Linked DNA regions of Homo sapiens: region 1 is linked to region 2. The links come from fine-mapping of genetic effects on plasma protein levels. Region 2 holds a variant in brackets. A gene starts in the other region. All regions are shown on their forward strands.

Region 1 (2,500 bases), not on the chromosome of region 2:
ACTTGCAAACGATCCCGGGTTGTCATACAGATACTTGTTTTTTACACATAACGCTATGCCATCCCTTCCTTCACTGCCCCAGTCAGGTTTCCTGTTGTTGGACCGAAAGGGGATACATTTTAGAAATGCTTCCTTCAAGACAGAAGTGAGAAAGAAAGGAGACCCTGAGGCCAGGATCTATTAAACCTGGTGTGTGCGCAAAAGGGAGGGGGAAGGCAGGAATTTGAAAGGATAAACGTCTCCTTTGCGCCGAGGAATCAGGAAGCGTGACTCACTTGGGTCTGGGACGATACCGAAATCCGGTACCCCACCCCATCCCCTGCCCCGCCGGGTACCTACAAGCTCGGTTCCTTTCTCAACTCCCCCAGTTCCTTGATCTCCACCTTCTTGTACTTCCCCGACTTTCTCCGGTTGGTGATCACCAGGACGGCCATGCCGGCGACGAGGGCCACCACGACCACCACGATGACGGCGATGAGGCCGGCGGTGAGGCGCTTCATGGAGAACTTCGGGGGAATCTCGTCCAGGTAATAGATGAGCGTGCGCTCCACCTGCAGGGGTTCTCCGCGCACGCGCAAGTCCAGGCCGCCGCGGCCCTGGAATAGAGACTCGCCCTTGATGTCCCTCTCGAAGTAGTAGGCGGCATCGCCGATATCCACGTCACCGGCGGCCTTCTGAGACGTGTTCTGCCGCAGCTCGATCTGGATGGTGGGCTGCTCGTAGTGCACGGCCGCCACGAACTTGGGGTGCAGCCGATAGCGCTCGCGGAAGAGCCGCCTCAGCTCGGCGTCCAGGTCTGAGTGGTTGAAGGCGCCGGCGGTGGGGCGGTGGCGCAGGTCAATGAGGATGTGGTGGGTGCGCACCAGCTCATCGCAGCGTAGGCTCAGGTCGCCCTTGTCCGTGCGGCGCACGCCCACCGAGTTCACGCACCAGCACACCGACGTCTGGTTGCACTGGCGCGCCTTGAAGCGGCCCTCGGGGTCGCAGTCGGGGTCGTAGAGGCCATCGTTGTCCACGAGCGCGTGCTCACTCGGCCGCACCAGCGTGCGGGCGTTCTTGGGGGCGCTCATGCGCGCCTTGAGCAGCAGACACTTGGAGGTCAGCGTGGAGCAGTCGACCGCCATGCCCGAGCCCAGCGCGCGGCACTGGCAGCGGCCGCCGGGGCCGTCGGGGCTGCACACGGTCATCTTGTTGGTGGGACACGTGCAGTTGTCCTGCGCGGCCGTGTGGCCGGTCACCGCCGCCAGCACCAGCAGCAGCAGCGGCAGCCGCAGCGGTGGCGGCGCGAGGCCGGGGCCCCGAGCCATGGTGGGGCGGAGGAACGCGGACCGGACGCGGGCGGATGAGGCGCGGGGACTCGTCGGGGCTCGGGCTCCGGCGTCTGGGATGGTCTGCAGGCGTCTGCCGCCCGGCCGCTCCCTCCGGCTCTTATACTCTACCCGACCTGCCCGGCTGGTTCCACCACCGACCGTCCCCACTGGTATTTGGGTGACACATCCCGCCCCCCTCCCCGTCCCACGGAAGGCCAAGCCGGCCCTGCGCCGCCCGCGATAGGATCAGAACAGGGAAGCTGCTCCCGCCTCCTCCGGACCGAAAGCCGGGAAGGGGAGAACCGATACTCACCTGTAGGCTTCTGGGGACCCGCCCTCGGCGCGGCCTCCTGCTACAGACCTGGCGCGTCTGGGCCGCTCTCCCGGCAGAAAGTCTAAAGAGTTTCATTGCAAAGTGTGGCTCGCGACTGTCGCGCTCTCCTCTATACGCGACTCCCTTTTCGTTCTTTCCCAGCCCCAGCCCTCCCTTAATTTCTCTCACTCCCTCTCTTCTTTGTCCAGTTCTCACAGTAGCACACGTTTATATAGTTTACAGTTCACAAACATTATCTCATCCTAACACCAGTCCTGACAGGTAGGGACTATCAGACCCGTTTTATAGGTGGTACTGATGAGGCTTAAAGACCTGAAGTCACACTGCTATCAACTTCCTCATATTTCTGAGAGGGGTCTTTGGCACCCTGCCTAGGAGTGATGAGACCTTAAATAAAGTGTTTGTGGACACGAAGTGACACAGAATCTGAAGGGAAGTTAGGGAAGCAGTTCTGTTACTCACCATATCAAGGGTAAAACACAGGTATCCTGGTGTCCAGAGGGTTAAAAGTTCTGTTAAACACTAATTTTCTGTACCTCACACAAGCGCACACACACAGGCACACACGCACATAATATTTATTTGTGCACTGGCTATAAAGAGACAAACAGGAACAAATTCTTAAAGAGCCAGCAAGACTGTAAAGAGTTTTTTGTACAATTTGATTCTAACACAGCAAATCGTTGCTTTTCTTTTCCTGTATCCCACGTAAGTAGCTGAACCATGTAAATAATGAAAGAATGGAGCCTGTGAGAAATTGCTTGTCTGCCACTGTGTGGCTAGTTTCATGGCATACAGGGGTTGCAATCTCTTTTTGAGTCATTGAGAAAGTCTAGAGTTTCAAAGCTGTGGTAAA
Region 2 (3,019 bases):
TTGTGCATGTGTTTTGGTTTTGTCTTGGAATAATAAAAGTTTTCCTTCAGTCCTGAAGTAAAGTATATTGACTTCAGGTATTTATTATTATTATTACTATTTTTAAAATTCTGGGCCACGCTAACTTTGGGAGACTTCAGGTATTTATTCTAGAGATCATTTTTTGTTTGTCTCTTTTTTTTTCTTTTATTGAGTTGTGATTTATGTACTACAATTTTTTTTTTTTGAGACCGAGTCTCGCTCTGACGCCCAGGCTGGAGTGCAGTGGCGTGATCTCGGCTCACCACAACCTCCGCCTCCTGGGTTCAAGCGATTCTCCTGCTCAGCCTCCTGAGTAGCTGGGATTACAGGTGAGCTCCGGGCTAATTTTTGTATTTTTAGTAGAGATGGGGTTTCCCCATGTTGTTCAGGCTGGTCTTGAACTCCTGACCTTGTGATCCATCCGCCTTGGCCTCCCAAAGTGCTGAGATTACAGGCGTGAGCCACTGTGCCCGGCCTTTTTTTTTTTTTTTTTTTTTGAGGAGTTTTGCTCTTATTGCTCAGGCCGAAGTGCAGTGGTGCAATCTCAGCTCACTGCAACCTTCGCCTCCTGGGTTCAAGTGATTCCTGCCTCAGCCTCCCAAGTAGCTGGTATTACAGGCACCCACCACTGCGCTTGGCTAATTTTTGTTTTCCTAGTAGAGACAGGGTTTCATTATGTTGGCCAGGCTGGTCTTGAACTCCTGACCTCAGGTGATCCGCCCGCCTCGGCCTCCCACAGTGCTGGGATTACAGGCGTGAGCCACCGTGCCCGGCAAAATTCACAGTTAAATGTAGTTTATTGAGTTGACAAATGCCTCTGTAATGTAACCCACATTCCTTGAGAACATTTCCAAACTTTCAGCAAGTTCCCTTGTGCTGTTTCCCAGTTAATCCCTGCCATATCCCCAATCACTGTAGGTAAGTTTTGCTTATTCATGTAAAATGGAATTATGCTGTGTGTACCCTTCTGTATCTAGCTTCTTTCACTTAGCATAACTTCTTTTAGATTCATTCATCTTCTTGGAGTGTTGCTTTTTATTGCTGAGTATTGTTTTTATTGTATTAATATACCACAATTTGTTTATCCATTTGCCAGATATTGGACATTTGGGTTATTTCCAATTTGGGGCTATTATAAATAAAGCTGCACTGAACATTCTTGCACAAGACTTTGGGGACTTTTTTTTTTTTTTTTGAGACAGAGTTTAGCTCTTGTTGCCCAGGCTGGAGTGCAATGGTGCGATCTCGGCTCACCGCAACCTCCGACTCCCAGGTTCAAGCAATTCTCCTGCCTCAGCCTCCCTAGTAGCTGGGATTACAGGCATGCGCCACCACACCTGTTTAATTTTGTATTTTTAGTAGATAACAGGATTTCTCCATGTTGGTCAGGCTGGTCTCGAACTCCCGACCTCTGGTGATCTGCTCCCCTCAGCCTCCCAAAGTGCTGGGATTACAGGCCTGAGCCACCATGCCCAGCTTTTTTTTTTTTTTTTTTTTTTTTTTTGTGACAAGATCTCACTCTATTGCCCAGGCTGGAGTGGCTCA[AT/A]GCAGCCTTGTCTTCCCTGGCTCAAGCAGCCTTGCCATTTCAGCCTCCCAAGTAGCTGGGACTACAGGCTCACACCACCACTCCACACCACTCCAGGCTTTTGTTTTTGAGACAGAGCCTCACTCTGTTGTCCAGGCTGGAGTGCAGTGGCGCAGTCTCAGCTCACTGCAACGTCTGCCTCCCGGGTTCAAGCGATTCTCCTGCCTCAGTCTCCTGAGTAGCTGGTACTACAGGCATGCGCCACCATCCCTGGCTAATTTTTTATTTTTGGTAGAGACGGGGTTTCACCATGTTGGTCAGGCTTGTCTCGAACTCCTGACCTCCTGATCCACCTGCTTCGGCCTCCCAAAGTGCTGGGATTACGGGCGTGAGCCACCGTCCCCAGCCTTTTTTTTTTTCTGAGACGGAGTCTCGCTCTTGTTGCCCAGGCTGGAGTGCAGTGGTGCAGTCTCGGCTCACTGCAGCCTCCGCCTCTTGGGTTCAAGTGATTCTCCTGCTTCAGCCTCCAAAGTAGCTGGGATTGCAGGCATGCACCACCATACCTGGCTAATTTTGTATTTTATTTATTTATTTATTTATTTATTTATTTATTTATTTATTTTTTAGTAGAGACGGGGTTTCTCCATGTTAGTCAAGCTGGTCTCAAACTCCCGACCTCAGGTGATCTGCCCGCCTTGGCCTCCCAAAGTGTTGGGATTACAAGTGTGAGCCACCGCGCCCGGCCTTTTTTTTTTTTTTTTTTTAAATATCCTTGTTCAGTTATTTTTTAGGAACTTAGACACAGCAAATACATACCAAATGCCTCTGTGCCAGACACTGTTCACAGGGTAGTTAGCCATATATCAGATTATAAAGGATAAAAGAGGTCAGAGTAGCTGCTTCATTGGCTTTATGACCTGGTCTTTCTTTTTAATTTTCTTTCTTTCTTTTTCTTTTGTTTTTTAATTATACTTTAAGTTCTGGGATACAAGTGCAGACCTGGTCTTTCAAAGAATCCACTTGTTCACATAGAAACTCACAGTTTCCTTGTTTACTCAAGTAAAGGAAACCAGAATATCTCACCCAAAATATACCTCTTTGGTATATTTCAAGATAGTATTAGAGAAACTGCAAACAAGAATAGCTCTGAAAAGCTGCTGTTTGTGGAGATTTGCATCTTTAGGGAAAATCTGCATTAGTGAAATAAACAGCCAGGCTTTCTCTGAGCACACCTCCCCACCCCATCCCCCATGTTCAGACCTTGGAAAGATTAACCGAGAGATTGAGAGTCTGACACCTTTGAAGGTCTAATAGAGAAGTTTACCACATACCACAGGCTACCAAGTATCTTTTCTCAAGCCTTCTACCTGTGGGGTCTCATTTGCATAACAAGACCACCTTCCCTAGCCAGGCCTTTCCGTCCCTCCCTCCCATAACCTGTTTTGCCGTGATCTAAACCCCTATTCTTTCTGT

Which allele goes with the higher level. Positions count from the first base shown, and alleles are read on the strand shown. Strength reflects both the effect of a copy and how common the allele is.
As copies of AT replace A in region 2, the plasma level of the protein whose gene starts at base 1,403 in region 1 goes down (weak association).

The links. PIP is the posterior inclusion probability: the model's chance that the variant is causal. Protein levels are from antibody-based Olink assays in UK Biobank. Linkage for the fine-mapping came from a reference panel and not from the study's own genotypes, which makes the PIPs less certain.
Region 1: it holds the start of TACSTD2, and the variant in region 2 is fine-mapped to the plasma level of the TACSTD2 protein (UK Biobank, PIP 0.98).

The regions. Positions count from the first base shown.
Region 1 is chr1:58,575,850-58,578,349 of GRCh38, forward strand. It overlaps TACSTD2 (tumor associated calcium signal transducer 2), which reads right to left and starts at 1,403. Exons shown (of 1, transcript NM_002353.3): 1 at 1-1,403. The coding sequence starts at 1,307. The coding sequence ends at 336. RefSeq lists enhancers at 171-866, 867-1,561.
Region 2 is chr8:97,780,782-97,783,800 of GRCh38, forward strand. All of the region lies in intron 1 of LAPTM4B (lysosomal protein transmembrane 4 beta), which reads left to right. Among named protein-coding and RNA genes, the nearest start is that of LAPTM4B, 6.5 kb to the left of the region's middle. RefSeq lists an enhancer at 1,731-2,239. The variant AT/A (reference allele first, on the strand shown) is at 1,567.